Linked DNA regions of Homo sapiens. The protein of the gene in region 7 purifies or fractionates together with the protein of the main gene of each other region. This does not show direct contact. Each region holds a gene or a part of one and is shown on either strand. Other genes may lie near its edges. The genes, in order: SPTBN2, GC, MYO1C, LAP3, MYO1D, PFKL and CTSB.

Region 1 (3,500 bases), on a different chromosome or scaffold from region 7:
GCACAGTTATCACACTACCCTGGATTTTTTAATTTCAATCTTTTAGATTCGCGGGTGTGGGTGCAGGTTTGTTATAAGTTATATTGTGTGATGCTGAAGTTTGGGGTGTAATTGAACCCATCACCCATGTAGTGAGCACAGTACCCAATAGGGATTTTTTCAACCCCTGCCCTTGGATTCTTGTGCATATAAAGTTCGAGATCCACTGATCCAGCCCATGAGGGGATGCTCTCCCTGGGTGAGCTGCAGTGATGAGCAGCCACAGTGGGCTGGATAGAGACTGGTTGGTGTCTCTGCTGGGCATGAAGGCGGAAATGCAGAGCTAACATGTCCTTCCTCCTGGCGGTTTGCAGATGCTGGAATGGGAGATGGCTGTGAGAGAGAAGGAGGTGGAGGCAATCCAGGCCCAGGCCAAAGCACTGGCCCAGGAGGACCAGGGTGCAGGGGAGGTGGAGAGAACCTCGAGGGCCGTGGAGGAGAAGTTCAGGGCCTTGTGCCAGCCCATGCGGGAACGCTGCCGGCGCCTGCAGGCTTCTCGCGAGCAGCACCAGTTCCACCGCGATGTGGAAGATGAGATTGTGAGTCACTGGGGCCAAGGACGGCAAGCTGCCCCCAGCCATGTGGTTCTCCAGCCTCCCTCCTGGATGCCAGGGAGATGCCAGCAGGGCTCTATTCCCTCTTCTCTTTGGCATTGACCATCTCCCCTATAGGGAGACTTGGAGATGCCTCCCAGAACCAGAGATGACTGTTCCCCACACACAGGGCGGTAGCCCCAGGTGTCCCCACTCCCACTAATCAGTCCCTGCTGCTTGCCTTGCCCTCTGGGCCTCCACTGACCCCCTCTTCCTCTTCCAGTTGTGGGTGACAGAGCGGCTGCCCATGGCCAGCTCCATGGAGCATGGCAAGGACCTGCCCAGCGTCCAGCTTCTCATGAAGAAAAACCAGGTGAGGCAGAGGCTGAAGGCAAAAGAGAAGTTCCCAGGAGCCTGCCCAGACTTGGACGTGTTTTTTCTTAAGACCAGGCCCCCCTCGATGCTGAGTGTAACCCTGGACTTCAGTGGCTGTCTTTCCTCACCTTGGGAGGGTGGGTCCTCTCAGTAGGAGATAGTGGGGGCTGGGCGGCTGACGGGTGTTACCATCGCACCCCCAGGCTAGGAGAGGGAGCAGAGGACCCAGGAAGGAGAGAGGCACAGGGGTGAAGGGTGGTCTCCGGGAGCACGTGGGGCTGGGGCAGGACTTTCAGCATTTTCTCTTCTGTGGCCATGGGCAGACCCTGCAGAAAGAGATTCAGGGCCATGAGCCCCGGATCGCGGACCTGAGGGAGCGGCAGCGTGCTCTAGGTGCAGCAGCAGCAGGTCCAGAGCTGGCTGAGCTGCAGGAAATGTGGAAACGCCTGGGCCACGAGCTGGAACTTCGAGGGAAGCGACTGGAGGATGCCCTGCGAGCCCAGCAGTTCTACCGCGATGCCGCCGAGGCGGAGGCCTGGATGGGCGAGCAGGAATTACACATGATGGGCCAGGAGAAGGCCAAGGTGAGGGCCAGGACAGAGCCCAGTGTATGTGACCAGTTCTGCCCTCCCCTGACCTGATGCTGGATGCCACTGTCCCTTCCCCCAGGATGAGCTGAGTGCCCAGGCAGAGGTGAAGAAGCACCAGGTGCTGGAGCAAGCCCTGGCCGACTACGCGCAGACCATCCACCAGCTGGCGGCCAGCAGCCAGGACATGATTGACCACGAGCACCCAGAGAGGTGGGTGCAGCGGCAGCCCGGCCCAGCCTGGGGGTGGAGCCGGCTGCAGGAACAGGAAGGTGCAGGGAATGTGGAGCCTTCAGTGCTGTGTGCACGGAGCCTTCTAGAAAGCTGGAACACAGGGTGGGCGAGCTGTTGGGAGACTCAGAGGGACAGGGCTCCACAGAACAGACCGGAGGTCAGAGCTACACCCCTAAGTCCCACAGTGCCTCCCTCACTCTTCTTGCAGCACTCGGATATCCATCCGCCAAGCCCAGGTGGACAAGCTGTATGCCGGCCTGAAGGAGCTGGCTGGAGAGCGGCGGGAGCGCCTGCAGGAGCACCTCCGGCTGTGCCAGCTCCGCCGCGAGCTGGATGACCTGGAACAGTGGATCCAGGAGCGCGAGGTGGTGGCGGCCTCCCACGAGCTGGGCCAGGACTACGAGCATGTGACTGTGAGTGTAGGGAGGGCACCCAGCTCAGATCAACCGTGGGAAGAGTGGAGGACCCACAGGGAGACTAGGACCTAGTCCCAGGCAGAGCACTGAGGGGCTAAGGGGCAAGACCAGGCTGAGCAGGCACTGTCCTCCTGGTTTTGAGGTATATGATTTGAAGAGGCCGGGCATAGGCTCACACCTGTAATCCTAGCACCTTGGGAGGCTGAGATGGGAGGATTGCTTGAGTCCAGGAGTTCAAGACCAGCCTGGGCAACATAGTGAGACCCCCCATCTCTACAAAAAAAATTTTTTTTTATTAGCCAGGCACAGCCGTGCATGCCTGTAGGCCCAACTACTTAGGAGGCTGAGGTGGGAGGATCTCTTGAGCCTGGGAGGTCGACACTGCAGTGATTGCGCTAGTGCACTCCAGAGCAAGACCCTATCATCTCTAAATACATACACACACACACAATTTGAAGAATTGTACAGAAAGGGGACATGAAGCTGAGCTGAGACAAGGGCAAACAGGAAATTATCACTCACACTTTTCAACAGAATTCAACAAAACGGAGTATGATCCACCCCCCCGACAGTTTGGGGGCTTGGACCCTCAGTCGTACAGAAATATGGACCATAGTTAGGGTATCCTTGTCTGAAGCCTAAGGGTCCCAAGCACCTTGAAACGCCTTTGCTGGGGGTGGAGGGAGTCTGTCAAATACAGGGTCAGTGGGAAGCAGCTGCACCTACTCCTTAACCACAGGGAAGAAACCTGTCCCGGCCCCCATGCAGCGGGGAGAGGTGGGTTCTGAGTTTGGAGTGGAGGACTCGCTCCATCAGGCAGGGACCACATCCCCTAACATCACGGCATGGTCTGTCCATCTGCTTCCTCTACCAGATGCTCCGAGACAAATTCCGAGAGTTCTCCCGGGACACAAGCACCATCGGTCAGGAGCGCGTAGATAGCGCCAATGCGCTGGCCAATGGGCTCATTGCTGGGGGCCATGCTGCACGGGCCACCGTGGCCGAGTGGAAGGACAGTCTCAACGAGGCCTGGGCTGACCTGCTTGAGCTGCTGGACACACGGGGTCAGGTGCTGGCCGCGGCGTACGAGCTGCAGCGCTTCCTGCACGGGGCACGCCAAGCCCTGGCGCGGGTGCAGCACAAGCAGCAGCAGCTTCCGGACGGGACTGGCCGCGACCTCAACGCTGCCGAGGCCCTGCAGCGCCGACACTGTGCCTACGAGCATGACATTCAGGCCCTCAGCCCCCAGGTCTGACCCAAGCATGAGGAGGTGGGGGAGGCTTAGAGGAGGCCATGGGGGAAATGCCGGGGAGAGT
Region 2 (4,231 bases), on a different chromosome or scaffold from region 7:
TAGATAGAAAATCTGACTAAACATGTAACTACCTAAATTGGTTTACTGAAATTTTGATAGACTCTGCCCATGTAGATAATCCTTGGCTACTGAGTTGATAATGAAGTTTTAAATCACTTATCTGCGGGACCCTGGACACAGGGCTGTCTTTAAACTCTTCCACTGAGTTCCAATGGCCTCATTAGTTTCATTGACCTTCACAGATATTATAAATTTGGAAAGCCAGTGGGAGAACGTGGCAATAACTAGAATAAGAGTAATAGGTGACATTAATCCATGTTACTATGTGATGGATGTTACCATGAGCCCTGCACCCAGATTACCTTAATTAACCTCATAGCAATGTTGTGTCAAATGTACTGAGTTATCACCACATTGCATATGAGGAAAATGAAACTTAGAGGGGTAAAATAAATTTCCCAAGGTTACACAGCTATGAAAGCTGAGTAGGGATTTGATTTTAGAGCATGTGTAACAACCTGTACCTGACCATTTCCTGAAAATAGGGCTACTGCAAAAACCAGGAGTGGAACTCATCTAATTCCAATGAATGATCTACCTATGACTCTCTAGACAAGTCACAGAATTTACCCAGTGCTCAGTTCACTCTTCTGTAAAATGAAGATGTTGGATTTCATGTCCTACAGGGCCTCTCTGAGCTCTCAAATTACATGCCCATAAAATATACTAGTTGTAAACTATTAGTAGAAGGAGCTTTAAAATCACTGTAGGGAGTCCAAGATTTGCCACTAACTTTTTATGATTGGCAGTGGTGAGCCATTTAACCTCTCCAGTTATTTGCCTCACTTCAAAGGTTATTTTTCATATATATGTCAGTGCTTCACAAAGTGCAATACAGCATAGAAATACAAAGTACTATGCCATCATCTAAAATAAGATTACTTCATAGCATCAGAATTATGGATTTAAAATATTATGTTGAATTGGCTTCTCACTCTTTTTCCCCTTTTACTTAGAACATCTGGTCTGCAATATTTTAAGGTAATGCTTATTTGTAGTAGATTTAAACAAAGAGAGGAAGAGAGGTAAAGACAGAGTTTCCGATTTTCCACTTACATATGAGAAAGGTGGGGTGTCCAAAGAAGACACACAGCCCTATACAGGGGGAGAAGGTGTGCGTTACTAACATATTAAGTAAACTTTAGTGAGGAACAGCAGTGGAAAATAATCTATATACCTTGGCTCTTTTGCAGTTTGACAAAGTTAATGATTAAAATCTCCTAGATTTTCCACTACAGTATCCCCAGGGTGTCTATTTACCTTGATTGATATTATTTTATCTCTTTTGGGCCAAAGATAACAGCCCCTTGCTTCTGTGTTTAATAATAATTCTGTGTTGCTTCTGAGATTAATAATTGATTAATTCATAGTCAGGAATCTTTGTAAAAAGGAAACCAATTACTTTTGGCTACCACTTTTACATGGTCACCTACAGGAGAGAGGAGGTGCTGCAAGACTCTCTGGTAGAAAAATGAAGAGGGTCCTGGTACTACTGCTTGCTGTGGCATTTGGACATGCTTTAGAGAGAGGTAAGATTTCTTTTGTTGTGACCATTTACAGGAATTCTTACTAGTTTAATTTTATATTATCACTTAAAAAATGAAATAAAAAGTAAGAAACAGAAGAACTGGTGAATATGTTGGGGAGAGGGATAAGGACCAGAGAGGCATTAATCAGAGCTCCACGATGCCATGTAATGTTGAATTGGAATTGACAAAAAAAATCAACACAAGAATCTTGTTAAAGAAAGTAAATGGAATGATATAATTTGTCAATTATCTCTTCCTCCTTTGTTGATAAGCAAGACCTAGAGAGAATAATTTAAAATTAGACATTTGCTAATTGTTACAAGATAATGCAAATAAAGACTGTGATCCACCATTAAGCATTTATTCAGACTTCAAATATTTATTACCATTGAGTGTAATATACCATGCCAATGATGCATGATGTCAACTTAGAGATTTCTTTGATCCCCTTAGAGGAATCTTATACATGCAGTATTTGAAAATGCATTGTATTTTTAAAAATATCCCTCACATAAAATTTTTCTATAGCTATGAAACATAACCACAAATAAGATAATTCAGTTATATTTTTCATTGAAATTATTCTTCAGATGGTGTGTTCATCTTTGGGCAATGTTTAAAAATTTTTTTACATGATAAAGACTGAGATTATGGGAAGTATACAACTTTATGAATTCTACAGCTGGGAAACTTTTCATCATTAGCTTCAATTTACTTTTCTGGCTGATTCTTTAATGTTCACAAGGGACATCTGCATTTATCCTGCTTTGTAAAATTAAGGTTTTCATTTAGTGCTGTCAGTTAACAGCCTCACCTAATTCGTACATTATTATTCATAATAGTAATGTGTTTTGCCAGTGGAATAAAATGTGTGTTCCCAAGAATTATCAGTTATTAACTGTAACATGAATAACCTTACTCTTGACTTTTTATTCTTCTTCTTACATTTACTTTTCCTTGGTCTTATTTCATCATTCAAATTATTTTAACTCGTCTTACCCATCAATTCTTAAGTAAGCTATGCGTCCTTAGGTAAGACTACAAAGTCTTTCCCAGACAGCATAGGGTATAAAAAAGCAACATAAATTGTGTCCCTTATAAGACCTCTGAATAGGCCATGTTCCAAGAAATCCCTTTAAGTCTTATTCTTTTGGCCAAGGATTTGCTGGGGCAGATCTGATCCTGAAAAATCCTACTGAAGCAGGTTCAGATCAGGGTCTTCAAACACAGAAGGTCCAATAATGGCTAGGAATTGGAATTATATATGGAGGCCATAAGCAGGAGCATGAATCACCATCTTAGACTGCTGACTCAATAGGTGCACATTGGCTTCACCTCAAAGAATGAAAGTGTCCTTTGGAGAATAACAGAGCATTCTGCAATCTATATTTCAACATTCTCAGCAGTCCTCAGATTCTGATGAAATGGATGCTAAAAACCTCCAGTCAGTCCCCTAGAAGATCTAAACTTCATTCTTATAACCCATGTGCCATATGCCAGATGATATCTTGAGACATACATAATACACTTGTAAGCATTAACTTTCAATATTTGGGGAGAGTAGTCCTGATCTATCAATTCTCTATTCTCTAATACCTGAGCATGACCCAAAGACCAAGTCAGCAGTTTACTTAGAAGCTAGCTGTGTTCTTCCTGGCAGGAAGTTACAAAGTGTACAGATTAAGGGAGTTCTGAGAACTCTTAGGTTCTGAGTAGCCTTGTATTGTGGGGGATTGGTTTGAATTGCAGTTTTCTCTGCCTGTTATAGTTCTAGAGAGCTGACCACCCACAGCATTTATTTAAGCACCTGTTTCAAAATATATTACACTCAAGACTTACCTTGAAAAGAAGTTTCTGTGGCCAAATATATTTAAGAAATGAGCCATAATTTATTCCTTCTTGGTGGTTTCACAATTCATGCCTTTGTCGTCCTAAAGGTTCTGAGAAACACTACAGGAAAGAAATCTTATCTAACTCAGAGTATCTAAACATATTGACCCTTTTCTACAATGTCTATACCTGTGGAACTATTCTTTGGAAACCTTGGGTCTAAAATGGATACTGTTACAGATGACCCTTTACTGGACAGGTTCCAATTAAGCCAGCCCTCTCCTATCAAACAGCATTGGGAATCTTGTTCCCAAGCCACTGGGTACATCTTGGAGAAGAGAGCTTACCAAATCTGCTAAATCTGGTTAGTACCATAAGAAAATGTCCACTTTTGCTACCCTATGAAAAGCAACAAGGCAGTATTTCCCAGTTGCCTACAAGTAGCTTCTTCCCCTAGGACTGAAATGGATGAAATACTAATATACAATATATCTTTCCCTCTTCCCTTCCAAAGAAACCAAGTAACAAAGACTGGTGATACAGCTATAAAATTTTTTTTTAACTTGCAGATAGAAAAGTTACCTTAATGACCAGGAAACATTTATAAAAATTGATTTTTTAAAATTAAACTACAGCAAAAAAATTCTCAGTTTTAAGTTACACACTGTTAACAGAGCACTAAAAATATTTTTTTTGCATTTTTTTCTTTTCTTTTTTTTCGATTCAAGTTTTCTTTTTTATTATTGTTATACTTTAAGTTCTAGGGTACATGTGCACAATGTGCAGGTTTGATACATATGTATACATGTGCCATGTTGGTTTGCTGACACCCATTAACTCGTCATTTACAT
Region 3 (3,500 bases), on a different chromosome or scaffold from region 7:
ATCCTGCAGTCTAAGGAGCCCGCCTACGTCCGCTGCATCAAACCCAATGATGCCAAACAGCCCGGTAGGCCCCTCCCACGGGGGACTTCGGGGCCGGGCCTCCCCTGCAGGAGACAGGCCGTCAGCGCCAGCCCGCTGACCACGGCGCTCCCCCTACCCCAGGCCGCTTTGACGAGGTGCTGATCCGCCACCAGGTGAAGTACCTGGGGCTGTTGGAAAACCTGCGCGTGCGCAGAGCCGGCTTTGCCTATCGCCGCAAATACGAAGCTTTCCTGCAAAGGTGGGGGCAGGTCCTGCTCGGTGCCAGGGAAGGGGAGCGGGAGGGTAGGAGCCCCTAGGTCCCATGAGGGCAGACAAGGGTTCTCGGCCCCATTTTAGAAATGCGGATGCGGAGGCCCTGGGCTGCCCTTGGTGGAGGCCCTTGGTGCTGCGGTCCTGACATCAGGCTGGGTGGAAAGAATACCCGGCTCCCCCAGGCCGTGCCCTCCAGGAGCACCCGGTCAGGGGTACAGGAGGCCTCCGTCCACGTGCCGGGCACCAGAGGCAGACAGCAAGCCTTGTAGGGCAGCTTCCAAGGGGCTCCGAAAGGGTGGAGCAGCTTTGTGGTTCTTCTGAGTCGGGGGCCTGGGGGGTCAAACTGAATTTCATCTCTGCCACTTTCTAGTTACTTGGCCTTAGGTAGATAAGAACGGTTTCTTCATCTTTAAAATGGGGGCAGTGACCGAGTGAGCCTCCTGCTAGCTGTGAACGAGTCAGTGGGAGCACCCAGCAGGTGCCCAGAGAAAGCTGATTGGGGTCCCCAGGGCAGGCTGCTGACTGGGGTGGGAGCCGCGTGCATTCCTGTCCCCAGGTACAAGTCACTGTGCCCAGAGACGTGGCCCACGTGGGCAGGACGGCCGCAGGATGGGGTGGCTGTGCTGGTCCGACACCTGGGCTACAAGCCAGAAGAGTACAAGATGGGCAGGTGGGTAGTGTCCGTGCCGGGTGCCTGCGGGGAATGGGAGTGGCAACCCCGGGCTGATCACTACTGCTCTCCCAGGACCAAGATCTTCATCCGCTTCCCCAAGACCCTGTTTGCCACAGAGGATGCCCTGGAGGTCCGGCGGCAGAGCCTGGGTGAGAGAGAGGCCTACCCTTCCTGCTGCACGGGGTCCCTTCTGGGAAGCAGGGAAGTCACTCCCTTGGGCTCCTTCTCCAGGGAGTCCACCCCTCCCTATCAGCTCCAGCCCCACGCCCAGCTCCAGGGAGTCCTTCTCCAGAGAGTCCAATGGCCGACTTGGAGCCCCTCCCCACCAGCTCCAGCCCCACGCCCACCATCCCACCCGCCGCCCCCCTTTTCCGGGCAGTCCCCACATTCATTCTTCTTCACCACTCTCCTCCTGCTCGTTGGTTCCTTCAGCCACTCTCCCATTCATGCCACTCGTGGAGCGCACACGGCACCAGGCTCCCAGCTGGCTCCCCGCGCTCTGGCCAATTGCCTTTCTTTCCCAACCGCAGCCACAAAGATCCAAGCTGCCTGGAGGGGCTTTCACTGGCGGCAGAAATTCCTCCGGGTGAAGAGATCAGGTTCGCGGGCCCATGGGTGTTCAGGAGGGGCGGGGTCTGGGGCCAGGGGGGGCCACCATGGTAAGAAGATAGAGTTCAGCCATCTGTGGTCTCCACGACAGCCATCTGCATCCAGTCGTGGTGGCGTGGAACACTGGGCCGGAGGAAGGCAGCCAAGAGGAAGTGGGCGGCACAGACCATCCGGCGGTGAGCGCCAGGGTGCCTTGTGGGGGCTGCAGAGCAGGGCGTGGGGGGTGGTTCACCGCCAGGCCCCTCACCCCCAACCCTGTCTGGCCCCCCACCCCAGGCTCATCCGAGGCTTCGTCCTGCGCCACGCCCCCCGCTGCCCCGAGAACGCCTTCTTCCTGGACCATGTGCGCACCTCTTTTTTGCTAAACCTGAGGCGGCAGCTGCCCCAGAATGTCCTGGACACCTCGTGGCCCACGCCCCCACCTGCCCTGCGTGAGGTCTGTGGGCACCCCCTGCCAAGTTAGGGACCATCATAGTACACAGCAGAAGGGTCTGATTTCTTCGGGCCAAAGGATTGGTCAGGGAGGGCTCACGGAGGGCCCGGACCAGAGCTGAGCAGTGAAAAGTAAGGTCTCTTTTTTTTTTGAGATGGAGTCTCACACTTTCGCCCAGGGAGTGGCATGATCTCGGTTCACTGCAACCTCCGCCTCCCGGGTTCAAGCGATTCTCCTGCCTCAGCCTCCTGAGTAGCTGGGACTACAGGCGCCCGCCACTACGCCCGGCTAATTTTTTTATTTTTAGTAGAGACGGGGTTTCACCCTGTTGGCCAGGCTGGTCTTGAACTCCTGAGCTCGGGTGATCCACCCACCTTGGCCTCCCAAAGTGCTGGGATTCCAGGCGTGAGCCACCGCGCCCTGCCGAGTAAGGTCTCTTGACCGGAAGCGTCTCCAGATGGAGGGGGTGTTACTTATCCAAAGGATGCAGTAGCATATGTTCGATGTCTTCAGAGGGAAGGGCCCAGGGTGTCCAGGACCTCTGACCTCACTCCTCCCCTTAGGCCTCAGAGCTTCTGCGGGAGTTGTGCATAAAGAACATGGTGTGGAAATACTGCCGGAGTATCAGCCCTGAGTGGAAGCAGCAGGTACGGAGAGCGGGGCTGGGTGAGGATGAGGAAGTGGAGTCAGGGAGTCGCAAGCATTGCTCAAAGGGTGTCCGCCTGGAGGGGCATTTACCCCGGTCTACCGTATTTACCGCGTTCTACCGTATTTACCCCGATCTACCGTATTTACCCTGGTCTACTCTATTTACCCCAGTCTACCGTATTTACCCCGCCTACCGTATTTATCTCGGTCTACTGTATTTACCCCACCTACCGTATTTACCCCAGTCTACTCTATTTACCGCAATCTACTGTATTTACCCCGTCTATAGTATTGACCCCGGTCTACCGTATTTTGCCCTGCCTACCATATTTACCCCGCCTACCGTATTTACCCCGGTCTACTCTGTTTACCCCGGTCTGCTCTATTTACCCCGGTCTGCTCTATTTACCCTAGTCTACCGTATTTACCCCGGTCTACCGGTGACCTCAGTTGGATGCCAGGCCCTGCTGGGCCTCGTGTAGGAAGTGGACACTGGAGTACAGCTGGGGTGGCCAGTAGGGTTCATATCGTGGGCCAACTGCCCTTGATTGGTAGAGACTGCTCAGAACCCTGTGTTGAAAAGTCTGCGTCTTCACTCGGGTCGATTGGTGATATCTGCCCTGATTACAGGCATTGGTTGATGTGCCGTGTTTTTGCCAACTCAGTATTGGATGATGCTAAAGGGCCCACCCAGTAACCTTGAGTATTAGTGATCTGCTGCTTACAAGACCCCAAGCTGGAGCTGAGTCTCAGGGCCACCAGGGCCTGATGGGGTGGGGAAGCATTACCAAGGCCAGTTTCAAAACCCCGCAGTGCCTTCATGACCCCGCTGGGGAGTGCTTG
Region 4 (3,500 bases), on a different chromosome or scaffold from region 7:
CAAAACTTGTAGCCGAGCAAAGGGAAAAGAGTTCAGCAGAGACCAGGCAGGACGCATGGGTGGGGTATGACTCGTTAAACTGAGACATAGCCGCGCTAAGCACTCTCCATTGTAGGTCAGTGTATATCAGAGAAACACAGGCAGTTCTTCCACAAGGGCAGGACTTTAATCAGACATCAAGTACTGAGTTAATGATTTAAAATGCCCACATTGCACAGCCTTGTTGTTGTTGTTTTTTTTTTTTTTTTGAAGTGATTTTTAAAACTGTTTCATCTTCCGATTTAAAATTTTTTTCCCTTTGAAGTGTGCTGGTCATCCCACCATGATGCAGTCCTAGTTTAATCATTTTAACAAGTGGATGGCAAATGCCGGAGGAGCATTCCTTGGCTGTGGTTGTTGCTGGTCTGCAGGAGGATAGAATTTCTTTCTTGGCCTAGTTACCGTGGCCAGAAATCAATACAAAGCCCTTTTGTGCTCCTAGCCTAGAAAGAAGAGCAATATGGCATCAGTTTTCTAGTTTGAACTAAGGACTGTTTCCATTCTGTTACCCCACCGATCCCATGTTTATTAAGTAAGAACTAACTAGTTTTCTCACTTAAAGATGCCTCAAGCAACAGTTGAAACTGTGAGAAACAGTGTGTGACAACATTAAAAAGATAGAATTCAACAGTTCTTAAAAAGCAAATAAATAGGATATTTTTTTTCCAGTCATTGGGATATAGCTTTGGTTTGCTGTCTGTTGGTTGATTTTTTTTTTTTTTCATTTTTAGAAATAAAGCAATGGACCCCTTACCTATCTTTAAGCACTCTTTGTGGTCTCAGAGCCTATTGCTAATTTTATTTTTTTAAGAGACAGGGTGTTGCTATGTTGCCCAGGTTGGGTGCTGTGGCGAGATCGTGGCTCACTGCAGCCTTGACCTCTAGGGCTCAAGCGAGCCTCTTGTCTTAGCCTCTGCAGTAGCTAGGACAATAGGCAGGCACCAACATGCCTGGCTAATTTTTTCTTTTTTTTTTTTCTGTAGAGACCAAGTCTCAACTTGTTGCCTAGGCTGGTCTCAAATTTCTATCCTCAAGTGATCCTCCTTCATTGGCCTCTAATTTCATCTTTATTATATCTTACCTTATTTGTTTTAGAGACAGTTTCACTTTTTTGCCCAGGCTGGTTTCAAACTCCTGAGCTGAAGCAATTCTCTCACCTCAGCCTTCCAAAGTGCTGGGATTACAGGCATGAGCCACCGCACCCGGCCTTCTAACTTCATCTTTAAATTAAAATTGTAGAAATATCTGAGTAGATTGGAGAGAGGAAATTAATTATATAGACTGTAGACTATTAGTTGACATTGTATTAGGTACCACACATGACTTCTCTTAGTAATTCAATAATCTTTTGATGGAAGAATTACAGACCTCATTTTATAGATGAGGAAATAGGCTTAGAATCAAGTGACTTGCCCAAGAATATACAGAAAGCAAATAATGGGACCTGATAATTGAAACCTTAATGTGCGTATACTTTAAGAGTTTGTATATTATACTTTTTCACACACTGTGATGAGCTTTTTCTGTTATTTTGAAATAAAGGTAACAGTATATTTACTTTTTCCCTCTTTCTACCCTATAGACCCAAGTCTTGGATTGAGGAACAGGCAATGGGATCATTCCTCAGTGTGGCCAAAGGATCTGACGAGCCCCCAGTCTTCTTGGAAATTCACTACAAAGGCAGCCCCAATGCAAACGAACCACCCCTGGTGTTTGTTGGGAAAGGAATTACCTTTGACAGGTATTTTTTATGGTGTCCGTGCTTTGTATTTTGGTGAATTATTTGTGTGCAGTTTAATTACTTGGTTATAGGGTTTTTTGGTTTGATTTTTTTTTTTTTTTGAGGCAGAGTCTCACCCTGTCACCCAGGCTAGAGTGCAGTGGCGTGATCTCGGCTCACTGCAGCCTCTGCCTCCCAGGCTCAAGCAATCCTTGTGCCTCAGCCTCCCAAGTAGCTGGGATTACAGGCGTGCACCACCACACCCAGCTAATTTTTGCATTTTTAGTGGAGATGGGGTTTTGCCGTGTTGGCCAGGCTGGTTTTGAACTCTTGGCCTCAAGTGATCCGCCCACCTCAGCCTCCCAAAATGCTGGGATTACAGACATGAGCCACTGTGCCTGGCCGGTTTATAGTTTGATACAAAAGCATGGTGTTTGGTTGAAGGTATACATTACTTTAAATTTATTATGCTACCACCTCTAAAATGCTTAGAATATGTCAGAGACTATCAGGTATTTTGCATGTGTTAGCCCTAACCATACCCCTGTGGGCTAGGTATTGTAGACATTCTCCAGGTAAAGAAACCATGACTCAGAGTTTAAATAATTTGTTCAAAGTCCTATAACTAGTAAGTGGAGTCCGAAGTCAAACTCAGGTGTGTCGTGTCCTTTTTTTAAAAAAAATATAGAGATGAGTTTTCACTGTGTTGCCCAAACTGGTCTTAAACTGCTGTCTCAAGCAATCCTCCCACCTCAGCCTCCCAAAGTGCTGGGGTTATAGGTGTGAGCCATTGTGCTCTGCCTAAAGTGTCTTCAGATTTTTCTGCCATGCACTTTGCTTGTCCTCTGTGGCTGTTAAAGATTCTCCACGAGGTTAGTGGTGATGCCCCTGTTTGTATTATGCTGTCTTCCCTTTGCTTGCTTCAGATGATTACTTCTTTTAGCTGACCAGTCTAGCTCCCATTAATCTTATTCAACCATAAGTATTTCTTAGAGTTGGAAACTGTATCTGGTTATTTCAGCCAAGGAGAGGCTGAACTGAGAAAGATAGTGGAGTTTGGTATTTCCCATGGGAAGCATTTGCCACCAAACACAAGTTTCAGGGATGCCAGCGAGTATGAGACGTAAAAAGGGCTACTTAGCAAAAAAACTAGGTTAGAGAAACCCATGAGGGGTTTCATTTTTGTTTTATTTGCTTAACTACAGGACTTCTCAGGGTACAGAATATAGCATTTTCTGTATTTCCTTTTGAAGGAACCCTGATTCCTGGGAATCATGTTACCTGGAAACTACTTTGGAAAATGCTGCTAGAGAACCATACGATGTTGATGTCCCCTTGTACATTTTTGTGCCCTTTCTGGAATGCTTCTAGACGTAGGAAGCCCCTGTCATTGGCATAGCTTGCTGTCAGTGTGGTCTCCTTGTGTTAGCAGGTCAAAGTGCCTCCTTGTGTCTCCCACCCACTAGTTCACATTTTCTCCTTTAAAGCATTGATCTCCAAATGGTTTTCCTGGTATAGCCCATCAGTAAAAGATCTTGAGTGCATCCCTTTGAAAATATGCATGCTTTTTTATAAGTTATATGCATTATACTATTGTACTAAAGTGTCTATTATTTTATTTATTTATTTTTTTGAGACAGAGTCTAGCTCTGTTGCCCAGGCTGGAGTGCAGTGGCGTAATCTCGGCTCACTGCAAGCTCCGCCTCCCGGGTTCACACCATTCTCCTGCCTCAGCCTCCCG
Region 5 (4,103 bases), on a different chromosome or scaffold from region 7:
TCCCGGGCAACCAGTGCTTAGAAAGTGCCTCACGTGCTCATGGCCTGGTGAAGGCGACTCCAGGCTGGGCAGAAGCTCAGCGCATGCTGGCCTTGGCCCTGGCGTTCCCCTGGCCGTGTGGACACGACAGCTTGGCGTTCACTGCCCAGCACTAAGAGCAGCTCCGTAAGTCCAGCAGAGCGTTCAAAGCGGGACCAACCTGCCCACGCCCCAGACGCCATCCCGAGAGCAGTGAAAAATTCCCAGGGCTTTCGGCATACGGAGCAGAGCCAGCCAGTCCTGACTGGAGGCTCCGAGGTCAGGAGGCTTCCTCCTTTCTCCTCTCCCCTCCCAGCTCAGAGCTGACAAGGCACAAGCTGAGGTACAGCGTGGGATTGTGCTGCCTGTGTGAGCAAACATTGGGGTGCCAGCCTATCGCGACAAGTGTCTCTGCTTTTAAAACCAGCAGCAGCTTCTTAGCATGTTCAGCGTCGTGTGAGGAGCTGGAGGAAGGGCTCGGGCTCGGGCTCTGTCCAGCAGGAAGAGCACAGCTTCCGCCTCTGCACCCGACCTGGAGCCCGGCCGGACGCCCGGCTGAAGCCGCCTTCATGTGCTCCCAGGCCAGCGGGGCTTCCTGCTGCACAGGGTTCCCTGCAGCCCCCGGTGGGGCACCGGCTGCACTGTTCTGCAGCCTCCAGGGTGGCAACCAGCCAAGCGGCCCAGCTCCAGATGAGAGCAGCCTCTCGCTTGGGGAAACCCAAGTCAGGCCCACTTCCACCAGCCGGGGTGTGACAGGCAGGGACCAGCCAGGAGCAGGAGACATCTCTCTCTCTCTCTCTCACTGGGGCATGTGGCACGGGTCTCCCGCAGGATGGATTAGTGTCAGAGTCAGAACCCCAGCCCTGGTACACCGAAGGACCCAGGGGCTTGGTCCTCAGCCCCAGCCAGAGACCTGGTGGCGTCTGTTCAACCACATGGCCCTCCACTGTCCAGTCCCATGCGCTGGCATGGGAGCCAAGGGCCCTGCCATGGTGCCGAGGCTGTGGTTGGAGGCCCAGCTAGTGCCACACTCGCCTTGCCTCGGCCTCTCTGGGGCCCTTCAGGCATCCTCCTGGCACTTGTGGAGGAAGCAGGCTGCGCCGGAGCCAATGGTGGCCGGGAGCTGCCGGGCAGGTGCCCTGTTCTCATGCTGCCTGCTAACTGCCCGTCTGGTGTTTTTGGTTCCTGCAGTGAGAAGCGCCACCTTCAAGTGAACGTCACCAACCCAGTACAGTGCAGCCTGCACGGGAAGAAGTGCACCGTCTCCGTGGAGACGCGGCTCAACCAGCCCCAGCCCGACTTCACCAAGAATCGCTCGGGCTTCATCCTCAGCGTGCCCGGGAACTGACGCCCCGCGGAGGCCTGGCCCGGAGCCCGGCCACACTCCGAGTCCTGGGTCCCAGTCCAGCTGCTGCCTCCCAACCCATGCCCGCTAGAAACCTGCTGCGAGGGCCCCTCCCAGAGGAGCCCCGCCCCTGTAAGATTTCCTTCCTGGTTTTCTGCCTTTGGTATCATCTTCCTCTGTCCTTACTGTCCACGGTCCCTGTTCAATAAGCCAAAGACCCTGGTGCCCCGCCCAGACCCCTGGGCTGACGTCCAGACCAATCTCACCCCAGAGGCAACTGGATGGTGCCTTTAGTTGGTGCGGATGCCCCGTGGCCAGGTCAAGTCAGAGCACCTGGACAGGTGTCCTCCCTGCTGCTGACCCTGCAGAGGGAAGGGGTGGGGATGCAGGACCCCACTCTGCGGGAGCCCCATAGCCACCTCTCTTGCCCAAGGTGAGCCAGCCCTGGGGACCCAGCTCAGGGAGGCTCTGCTCAGAGTTCGGCGGACCCACCCCAACCCAACTCCCAGCCGCCAGCCAAAGCCACTGGGTGAGCAGAGTCACCCACAGGGCCAGCCCCTCAGCCAGGAGCCAGTGGCAGGAGCGGAACAGCCCATCCAGCAGAGTGAGTCCATCCTTCCCAGGTTCTCCCCTGGGAGACTCCCTTTGCCACCAAGGCCCCCACCAGGGCCTCTGACCACCGCTCTGGAGAGGACAGTGTGGCATGCTCCAAGGATCATCTTACTTAACTCGCAGCCTGTGGCTGTGGTCCTCTTATAGATACTTTCACCGTTTGCAGGGTTGCTAATCAGATACCTGCTGTCACCACACTTGGGTCAGGAACCCTAATGAGAACGGGGAGCTGCCAGGGTGAGGGCAGCCCTCAGGGTCGGCCGCTTTCCCTCTGGACCACCTCCCGCTGCGTTTCCTACTCAGAGAAACAGCAAGGGCGGGGTCAAGACACGGGATGACGGGAAGCAGGAAGCGGGGCAGCAGCACAGCGTGGGGTCCTGGCACTGCAGGCCAGGCCAGGATGCCCACCCCGCCCTCTACACGGCCCCTTGGGGCCTGCGCCCGTGAAACTGGTGCCAGGGAGCACTGCCAGCTTGCCAGTTTCTGCCCAGCAAAAGCACGTATGCTTCAGGGGCCTTCTGAGACCACCTTCCCCACTGAGCCCCAGCTGCTGAGAAGGCCTTGAGGGAAGTAGAGGCTGGGAGCAAATGCCCCATGCGGTGAGAGGATGAGGGGAGCCTACGCCTCAGGCATGTGGTGAGAGGATGAGGGGGAGGGAGCCAACGCCTCAGGTGGAGTGGGCAGAGGTGCAAGAGAGGGATGTACTGAAGCTTCTTCCCGTCCTGCCACAGACACTTCTCCTGCCTTCCCACCCTGACCCGGCAGAACCCACCAAGTGCCTGTGTGCAGCCTCCTGTGCCTCACCCAGGGCCTGACCCCAGAGTGGTCCCAACAACCCGGTCTCATGCCCACTCCCCATCCCTGCTTCCCAAAAATTGCACTGTGTGCAGTTTGCAACAAAGAATCCCGCTGGCATCCTGTCCTTGGGAACCCTTTCTCATTCTCCAAGCCTGGTCAGCTGCCTGCACAGGCAGAGGTGCCCTCAGCCCAGATTAGCAACACTCATAGTTTTGCCAATTACCAGTAGACACTAGTGGAACCATCTAACTGGAACTTCCTCTCTCCTTCCACTTATTTCCTCAAACTTGTTGCTTTACACTAGACACATGCAAATGTATGTTTTAAACACACCAAAACAGATCATGCCAAATGAGTTGCCTGTCAAAGGCTGGAGGGCAGGAGGAGGGCCTGGGTTTGGGTTCTTTCCTCCCAGCCTTTGGATGGTGCCTTGGGCCCCTTAGCCCCAGCGCCAGGGCCTCCCAGCTGAGGCCACAGGACAAGCACTTTTTTATGATGTACTAAAAGCCACAGTATGTGGCAACTGCAAAAGGATCAGGAATTTAGGGTATGATCTCGGTCACGTGTCCCGGGCGCTGAGGGGAAAGGAAGCGGGCATGATTGTAGACAATGAGGGGGTTCTCTTGATGTAATGAAATGCAATTTTATGGTTTGGTGCAAAAACTCCTATTTTCCAGTAAATTAACTTTATTTCTAAAGCATATTTTGATTTGCCATCAAGAGCAATAAAGCATTAAATCTTATTTTTAAAGGTGTTCTGCTTATCTGTCACTGAAAACTTGGTGAAATTTTTGCTTAAATAAAGTCAACCATTATCTGGGAGGATAGAAGGGAGAATTAAGCACAAATCATGTAAAATGGAGGATGATTTGCCTGAGGCTTTTGAACAAAAAGTGAGCAAGAAGCAAGCTGTGGACCGGAGGTGTGAGGAGGGAAGGAGGCCGTGGGGTTGAGTCCCAGCACTTTCTCCTGCCATCTTGAGGCCTGTGCGCTGGCAGCTGGAAGCACACTGCTTAGTGCCAGGGAATATGTTTACTGCAATAGAAGCACGTATGTAGAAAGGAAAGGCTCAGAGACCTACAGCAGCAGACTGGGGACAGGCCAGGCCAGCGGAGTGAAAGGTGCTGGGAGGAAGTGTGGGGGCGGCAGGGAGAGTGAGAGGAAGCAGCAGCTCCTCCTGGGGAAGGGAGCAAGGCCCTGAGGGAGCAACAGGGCATGGCCAGCACCCAAGGGTCCTGCAGCCAGGGTGCTTCCGGTCACTGGTCATTGGCAGAAAAGAACACGCAGCGGTGGCTTCTGTAACTCAGACGAAGGCAGTTGCTTTGTGGAA
Region 6 (3,500 bases), on a different chromosome or scaffold from region 7:
CCGTCTCTACTAAAAATACAAAAATTAGCTGGGCGTGGTGGTGGCACATGCCTGTAATCACAGCTACTCAGGAGGCTGAGGCAGGAGAATAGCTTGAACTTGGGAGGTGGAGGGTGCAGTGAGCCGAGATCGTGCCATTGCACTCCAGCCCGGGCGGCAAGAGTGAAACTCTGAAAATAAAATGTTCCCAAACAGCTGAAAACCTCAGGAAATGGGATCTCTCCAAAATAAGGATGAAATGGCTTGTTTCTAAAGTCCTGGGGGACGAGGGTCCTGTAGAGAGAGTCACGGCCAGTGAGGTCCTGGCTCCCAAGCCCCTTGAGCCACAGCCGGAGCTGCAGGCCGGGGCAGACAGCGTGGCCCAGCCTGAGTCTGGTCCTCCCTTCCATGGACATCTTTGGGTGTCCCTGCTGCTCCAGCCTCCTGCTTATCCCCAGAGCTAGTCAGCGGGCTCTACCCTCCGTGGTGGGGCAACCTGGTCTCCACGAACCCAGAACCTGGCAGGGGCGTGACTGGCTTTGTGGGCAGCAGGGCTGGCTCGTACCAGGACCCAGTGGGGCCATGTGGCTATGGAGCCCTTGGGTGTGGCTGCTGCCAAGTGGGATGTGCTGCACGTGACAGGTGCACGCCAGGTTCAGAGCCTCAGCACGGTGGGTGGAGGGGAGGTGGTGGCGGCCGTCACTGGATTCACATGGATGTGGTGGGGTTTTGGGTCCATCAGGTTAAATTAACTGTAGTCCTGATGGGACTGTCTCCATGTCTTTTCCCTTCCCTTAACGTGGCTACTAGAAAACAGGATAGCCAGGGCCCCTTCCTTACTCGTGGCTGTGCACCCCCCACCCTCCCGCCCGCTGCCAGCCCCTTGTGTGGGCACTGACCTGTGTTCCCGCCCGCAAGCCTGGCTTCACAACAGTGCTCGCCCCTTCTGCCTCCTCTGTTGCCTGCGTGCCAGGGGGCCAGGCTTGCACCGTGTCTCTTTTGGTCTTCACCAGAATCTTCTGGAATTAGAACAGATACCGTATTCCCAGGGCAGTTGGGCGGTGTGCTGGGCAGCGTCCAGGCTGCTGGCAGGGCCTGGCCCCTTTTTCCAGAACCTGCCGGCCTGCTGACCTCCTGTGCAGGTTGGGGGTCCCCTCCCCGGCTGTGCCTCACGCTCATCTCCCCTTCTCTCTGAAGTCTAACTTCTCCCTGGCCATCCTGAATGTGGGGGCCCCGGCGGCTGGCATGAATGCGGCCGTGCGCTCGGCGGTGCGGACCGGCATCTCCCATGGACACACAGTATACGTGGTGCACGATGGCTTCGAAGGCCTAGCCAAGGGTCAGGTGGGTCCGGCCGGGGCAAACAAGTGAGGACTTGGGCCTTCTGTGTGCACACTTGGGGCATTTCCTGTGGAAGGCCGGCTGCTGGAGGTGGAGGCTGAGACCTGGGTCCGCGTGTCGGTGCCCACCCGGGCCTGGGTACTCAGCTCTGCCTGCAGCGTGATGCCCAACACTGGCTGGCCCCCGGGCACAGGCCCACCCCTGGGGGGAATTGGCCAGAGGCTCAGGCTGGCCCCTGAAGCTGCATCTCCTCCTGGCAGGTGCAAGAAGTAGGCTGGCACGACGTGGCCGGCTGGTTGGGGCGTGGTGGCTCCATGCTGGGGACCAAGAGGTGAGCTGCCTGCTGCGGGTACCTGGGGGCAGGAGGGCCAGGGCGCAGTATCCAGGCCCTGCAGGTGGGGGCGGCAAGGGGAACCCAGCCCGGGGCCCTGGGCTCGGCCCCTCTTCCTGCTGGTGGTCTGCCCAGAGCAGGCTTCACGCCTCCTGCCTGGGGCTTCCTGGCCTGAGCTCCGCTGTGTAGGGCAGGCTGCTCTGGCGGCCCCATGCCCATGGTGGGCTCTCCGTGGCAAGGAAGCTGGCGAGCGTCTGTCCCTGCCTGGCCAGGCCAGGCAGCCTGCACTGTCAGCACTCTGGCTGAGGCTATGGGCCTGTCTGATGGCTTTTGTCCCAGGGCCTGAGACCCTTCTGTGGGCATGGGGTGGGCACAGTCCCCCTGTGTGACTACAGGGGAAGTTGCTGAGTCCTGAGCCACTGAGTGGCTGCAAGGGCCAGAGGAAGCATCCGCTCCTGCCGCTGAGTGTTGGGCGAGAAAGCCTCGGGCAGGAAGGGGTTCCCACGGGGAGCCCAGCGGGGTGGGGGGTTCACTCGGTTGCCTGGCCGGTGCCTGGTGATGCTGAGTGGTGCCCAGGCGGCTCACGCTGGGCCTGTGTGTCCCTCTCCGTGTGGAGCCACAGCGCCACATCCCGGGCATTGCAGCGACTGCTGACTGGCTCGGGGAACGGCCAAGGCAATGCCTTTCTGTGATCAGATGCAATCTGGACACGCGTCCCCGGGTGCTGCGTGTTCATGCGGATGTGTCTTTGACTGCAGGACCCTGCCCAAGGGCCAGCTGGAGTCCATTGTGGAGAACATCCGCATCTATGGTATTCACGCCCTGCTGGTGGTCGGTGGGTTTGAGGTGAGAGCTGCCCACGGACGAAAAAGCCCCAGGGCACAGGAGACCCAAGGTGTCCTCCCGCCGAGGGGGCCCATCCTGAAAACCCGTGTGCTGGCTGGGCCGATGCAGGGGCCGAGAGGGTCGGGGTTTTAAGTGCTGTGTGTGGGCTCGGGAGGGCACCCGTGTGCCAGCTGGGCTGATGCAGGGGCCGAGAGGGTTGGGGTTTTAAGTGCTGTGTGTGGGCTCGGGAGGGTTCTTTACTTTCTCCGGAAAGCTTCACAAGGTTCCGATTAACCCCAGTGCTGGGGAGGGGCAGGGGAGGAAGGGGACTCGGAAGCTGGAGGACGAGAAAGAAGGGAGGCGGAGGAGGCAGAGGTGTAGGTGCTGGACGGCATCGCTGAACGTGGTGTCCTGGCACTGGGCAAGCTGTCACTAAATAATGAATAAATGACAGCCCTTCCCCCTTGCCCTCCATGGAGTGGATCTGGGGTCAGAGTGGGTTGGAGGAGACTCCTGACCCTCCTTAGAGTCCAGTTTCCCTGGTAGGCATCCTGAGATGACACCAGGCTGACTGCCTGGCCCAGCCCCAGGGGATTGAGCAGGTGGGTCCTGGCGTCCAGCACGGGGCACATGACAGGTCAGCAGGGAGCAGGGCTGGGCGGCCGCCGGCAGAGCCTGTCCCCGGCCCACCCTGGCCTCGGTGCTGCCCTTGACCTGCCCCGTCCCTACTGCTGCAGGCCTATGAAGGGGTGCTGCAGCTGGTGGAGGCTCGCGGGCGCTACGAGGAGCTCTGCATCGTCATGTGTGTCATCCCAGCCACCATCAGCAACAACGTCCCTGGCACCGACTTCAGCCTGGGCTCCGACACTGCTGTAAATGCCGCCATGGAGGTACGGGGCTCCTGGACACCGGCCTGCCATGCCCAGGCCCTTGTGGGGTGGGGCTGAGCCTACGGAGGCTGCTGGAGGGGATAGTGTGTGGTGAGCACCTGGGAGGGCTGCCAGGGTTGGGGTTTGTGGGGCAC
Region 7 (3,500 bases):
ACAAGACATGCCGAAGAAGGCTGCAGACAGGTGTCCTTGGTAATTTCATAAAACAAAAGGAAATTCTGTTGCTCAATGCACCTTTTGATTTTTTTTTTGGGTGGGACGGGAGGGTGGGAGTGGACAGAATTTCACTGTGTCATCCAGGCTGGAGTGCAGTGGCGAGATCTCTGCCCACTGCAACCTCTGCCTCCTGAGTTCAATCGATTCTCGTGCCTCAGCCTCCTGAGTAGCTGGGATTACAGGCATGCACCACCACACCCGGCTAATTTTTGTATTTTTAGTAAAGACAGGGTTTCACCATGTTGGCCAGGCTGGTCTTAAACTCCTGGCTTCAAATGATCTGCCTGCCTTGGCCTCCCAAAGTGCTGGGATTACAGGCATGATCCACCACACCTGGCCTGACTTGCGATATTGTACGCTTCTTTCTAGGCTTATGTAATGGATTTTTTAAGATGAATTTATCCACAAATTATAAACTCATTTTTAAATAAGTTTATTCAGTCCAGATAGTGTTTCTTGCCCTGCTCTCCTGCCTCAACCTCTGCCCAGGATCCTCTCATCATTTCTCATATCATCCCCATTGTGCAGAAGGCAGTGTCGTGCAACTTAACTACCCCATCCTCACGTGGGAAGTGGCATCATCTCAGCTCACCGCAACCTCTGCCTCCCGGGTTCATGCGATTCTCTAGCCTCAGCCTCCCGAGTAGCTGGGATTACAGGCGCCCGCCACCACGCCTGGCAAAGTTTTTTATTTTTAGTAGAGACGGGGTTTCATCATGTTGGTCAGACTGGTCTCGAACTCCTGACCTCAGGTGATCCGCTTGCCTTGGCATCCCAAAGTGCTGGGATTACAGGCGTGAGCCACCATACTTGGCCTCATCTGGCTTTTCTTAGATTTCCCTTAAATTACTCAAGATTGAGTCTGCCCACATAGTGGGGACCCAGACCTTGTCTGTCACATCTGCGGCTGAGACACCTTGGAGAAGCACAATAGAAAACACTGGGGGTGGCTCATGCCGGTAATCCCAGCACTCTGGGATGCCGAGTTGGGCAGATGACTTGCTGAGGCCAAGAGTTCGAGACGAGCCTGGCCAGTATGGCGAAACCCAGTCTCTACTAAAAATACAAATATTAGCCGTGCACGGTGGTGCAAGCCTGTGGCCCCAGCTACTCAGGAGGCTGTGGCATGAGAATCGCTTGAACCCGGGAGACAGAGTTTGCAGTGAGCCAAGATCGTGCCACTGCACTCCAGCCTGGGTGACAGAGTGAGACTCTCTCAAAAACCAAAAAAAAGCACCAGCATCTTCTCTACTAATAACTTGAGAAGGAAAAAATAAAATAAAAAGAGAAAGTAATATAAAAATGAAAAGAAACAAGTACTGTACCTCAAGCGGTGTCGGCAGCCCTGGGCAGCATGAGCCCTGCGGACGCCAGAGAGGCCTTCACTCTCCCACTTCCCACTGCCCCAAACCAACGCCTGCCACTCACATTACAGCGGTGCAGAGGAGCAGGCACTCACCTCTGGGGTGGCTTGGGCCCACCCAGGAAGGTACCACATAGCCTCTTCAAGTAGCTCATGTCCACGTTGTAGAAGTTGTGCCCGGCCTGGAAGAGAGTCACCCACTGACTGAAGGGTCTCCCGGGATGGCGGTGGATGGGCACGCTGCCCACACACGAAGCCCAACCCAGGGAAAACCAGAGACCCTACCCAATTCAAGGGCCCAAGGGTTGGGGGGCACTGGGGAACAGCCCAGAGTGACACACGGGCAGAGTGGGTGTCTCCCCTGATCTGCTCCCATTTGCTGACAATCAGAGACCCTCTCCAGCCCTCAACATGGCTCACTCCTCATTCTTGGTTCTCAGTCCGAGGGTCAGGGCTGGGCAGAGACAAAGGGAATCAGGGGCGGGACTGATAAACTGCCACTGTGCCACGGCGGGCGTCACAGGGGCTAGCTGGTTTTGAACACTTCCGAAGCTCACTTACTCCCCCACACACCTCCACGTGCACACAACCATATATTCATACACATGCACACACACTCATGCACACACGTGGGGTATGGGACAAAGGAGGGAGGCGTGGTCCAGAGCCGACATGACTCAGGGTCAGGGCCATTTTTCAACAGTCCAGGACAATGTTCTGTGGGCCACAGTGAGGGCTGGCTTCCCATTCCTGGAGTCAGTGTGCACAGACCGACCTGGGAGGGGACATACATAGGACGCAGCCCCACAGCCTACCTGCCACGTGGTATTCCGTTTGTTGACATAGTTGACCAGCTCATCCGACAGGGGATGGAAAGAGGGCCTGCTCCGGGCATTGGCCAACACCAGCAGGCAGCAGAGGGAGGCCCAGAGCTGCCACATGTTGGAAGCCGGATCCTAGATCCACCTGGAGAGGACAGAGGGCATCAGGACACCTCTCTGTTATGTGGGTCGAGGGCTCACACACACAGGGGCACCGTCTCGGGCATCAGTGGGGACCCCCATGCTCGTCCTGGCCCAGGCGGAGAACTCTTAAGGAGCTGAGGTGTCTATGGGATCCCCGCCCCCCTGCCCGAAGCACGCCATGACCTCGTGTGGGTCCCCGGGGGCCAGGCGGCCAGAGCCCAGAGAGAGAGCCAAGGGGCTGTGCTGGACGAGACCGAGTCCAGGGCCTTCGCTGCTATTTTTAAACGGCCTTTGCATGGATTTGTAGAACAGCTTGAGACACTTTCCCAAGTGAGTGATATGAAACAGTTAAGAGCCTGTCTGTGTGATTACACCCTAAGTGGAGGACCCAGGGGACAGGGAAATGTAAGAAAAGTTACAATCCAGGAGTCCTAGTTTCGACAGGACACAGACAAACAAGCTCGGTGTGGGCTGGTGGAGGTTGAGGCTGAGAGGTGGGGCTGGGCTGGCCATCCACCCACTCCCGGGGCCTCTCTGGTTTTTCCAGTCAGCCAAGGGCTCTGCTTCCGGCTGCGGAGATGAGGCTTCTGAGAAGGAAAACTCTCACCTCGATGCCCCAGCCGTTTGATCTTGCACTGGCTCATGAGTCACAAGCCAGTGCTTTCCAGCTTGAACTCTGAGTCACCCTCCTAAGTGAGCAGCTCAACAAAAGCAATACATGTCTCCTGGGCGCCTGCATCCAGGGCTGGGGAGAGCCGCGGCGCGGGGAGCTGGGTGAGGCAGGGGTTCCTGTCAGTCACTCCAGGGGCTCCCACGGGTGGGTGAGGTGTTCTACCTCCCACAGGTCACAGGTCGTCATGAAAGTCACAGGACTGCGGTGTCAGTGCTTAACAAACTGCCTGGCACCTAGGGGTTCTATCTGAAGAACAATTTAAACTTCATTGTTGCTTAAGCAACAATTCATCTAGGAGAATAAATATATGAGGACAGCAAGATGGCTCTGGAAAAAAGCTTTTTTTTTTTTTTTGAGACAGGGTCTTGGTCTGTGGGCCATGTCACCCAGTCTGGGGTACAGTGGCACAATCTTGGCTCACTGCAGCCTCCACCTC

What was found.
Region 1: the proteins of CTSB (region 7) and SPTBN2 purify together in Homo sapiens (affinity purification with mass spectrometry, with the first as the bait; one large-scale study listed by BioGRID). This does not show direct contact.
Region 2: the proteins of CTSB (region 7) and GC purify together in Homo sapiens (affinity purification with mass spectrometry, with the first as the bait; one large-scale study listed by BioGRID). This does not show direct contact.
Region 3: the proteins of CTSB (region 7) and MYO1C purify together in Homo sapiens (affinity purification with mass spectrometry, with the first as the bait; one large-scale study listed by BioGRID). This does not show direct contact.
Region 4: the proteins of CTSB (region 7) and LAP3 fractionate together in Homo sapiens (co-fractionation; one large-scale study listed by BioGRID). This does not show direct contact.
Region 5: the proteins of CTSB (region 7) and MYO1D purify together in Homo sapiens (affinity purification with mass spectrometry, with the first as the bait; one large-scale study listed by BioGRID). This does not show direct contact.
Region 6: the proteins of CTSB (region 7) and PFKL purify together in Homo sapiens (affinity purification with mass spectrometry, with the first as the bait; one large-scale study listed by BioGRID). This does not show direct contact.

The regions. Positions count from the first base shown.
Region 1 is NC_000011.10:66,691,217-66,694,716, reverse strand, and holds part of SPTBN2 (spectrin beta chain, non-erythrocytic 2), read left to right. Parts: intron 1-353; coding exon 354-578; intron 579-855; coding exon 856-945; intron 946-1,270; coding exon 1,271-1,531; intron 1,532-1,616; coding exon 1,617-1,747; intron 1,748-1,976; coding exon 1,977-2,181; intron 2,182-3,058; coding exon 3,059-3,433; intron 3,434-3,500. UniProt on the Homo sapiens protein: Probably plays an important role in neuronal membrane skeleton.
Region 2 is NC_000004.12:71,781,280-71,785,510, reverse strand, and holds the start of GC (vitamin D-binding protein isoform 1 precursor), read left to right. Parts: upstream 1-1,431; 5' UTR 1,432-1,456; coding exon of another isoform or gene 1,457-1,492; coding exon 1,493-1,550; intron 1,551-4,231. UniProt on the Homo sapiens protein: Involved in vitamin D transport and storage, scavenging of extracellular G-actin, enhancement of the chemotactic activity of C5 alpha for neutrophils in inflammation and macrophage activation.
Region 3 is NC_000017.11:1,468,687-1,472,186, reverse strand, and holds part of MYO1C (unconventional myosin-Ic), read left to right. Parts: coding exon 1-64; intron 65-162; coding exon 163-280; intron 281-850; coding exon 851-964; intron 965-1,039; coding exon 1,040-1,116; intron 1,117-1,497; coding exon 1,498-1,566; intron 1,567-1,667; coding exon 1,668-1,752; intron 1,753-1,852; coding exon 1,853-2,012; intron 2,013-2,572; coding exon 2,573-2,656; intron 2,657-3,500.
Region 4 is NC_000004.12:17,587,198-17,590,697, forward strand, and holds part of LAP3 (cytosol aminopeptidase), read left to right. Parts: exon of another isoform or gene 1-482; intron 483-1,120; exon of another isoform or gene 1,121-1,284; intron 1,285-1,621; coding exon 1,622-1,780; intron 1,781-3,500. UniProt on the Homo sapiens protein: Cytosolic metallopeptidase that catalyzes the removal of unsubstituted N-terminal hydrophobic amino acids from various peptides.
Region 5 is NC_000017.11:32,492,022-32,496,124, reverse strand, and holds the end of MYO1D (unconventional myosin-Id), read left to right. Parts: exon of another isoform or gene 1-677; intron 678-1,209; coding exon 1,210-1,366; 3' UTR 1,367-3,603; downstream 3,604-4,103. UniProt on the Homo sapiens protein: Unconventional myosin that functions as actin-based motor protein with ATPase activity. Plays a role in endosomal protein trafficking, and especially in the transfer of cargo proteins from early to recycling endosomes.
Region 6 is NC_000021.9:44,320,553-44,324,052, forward strand, and holds part of PFKL (ATP-dependent 6-phosphofructokinase, liver type), read left to right. Parts: intron 1-1,176; coding exon 1,177-1,323; intron 1,324-1,580; coding exon 1,581-1,651; intron 1,652-2,409; coding exon 2,410-2,497; intron 2,498-3,213; coding exon 3,214-3,366; intron 3,367-3,500. UniProt on the Homo sapiens protein: Catalyzes the phosphorylation of D-fructose 6-phosphate to fructose 1,6-bisphosphate by ATP, the first committing step of glycolysis.
Region 7 is NC_000008.11:11,851,088-11,854,587, forward strand, and holds part of CTSB (cathepsin B isoform 1 preproprotein), read right to left. Parts: intron 2,393-3,500; 5' UTR 2,368-2,392; coding exon 2,242-2,367; intron 1,609-2,241; coding exon 1,523-1,608; intron 1-1,522. UniProt on the Homo sapiens protein: Thiol protease which is believed to participate in intracellular degradation and turnover of proteins. Cleaves matrix extracellular phosphoglycoprotein MEPE. Involved in the solubilization of cross-linked TG/thyroglobulin in the thyroid follicle lumen.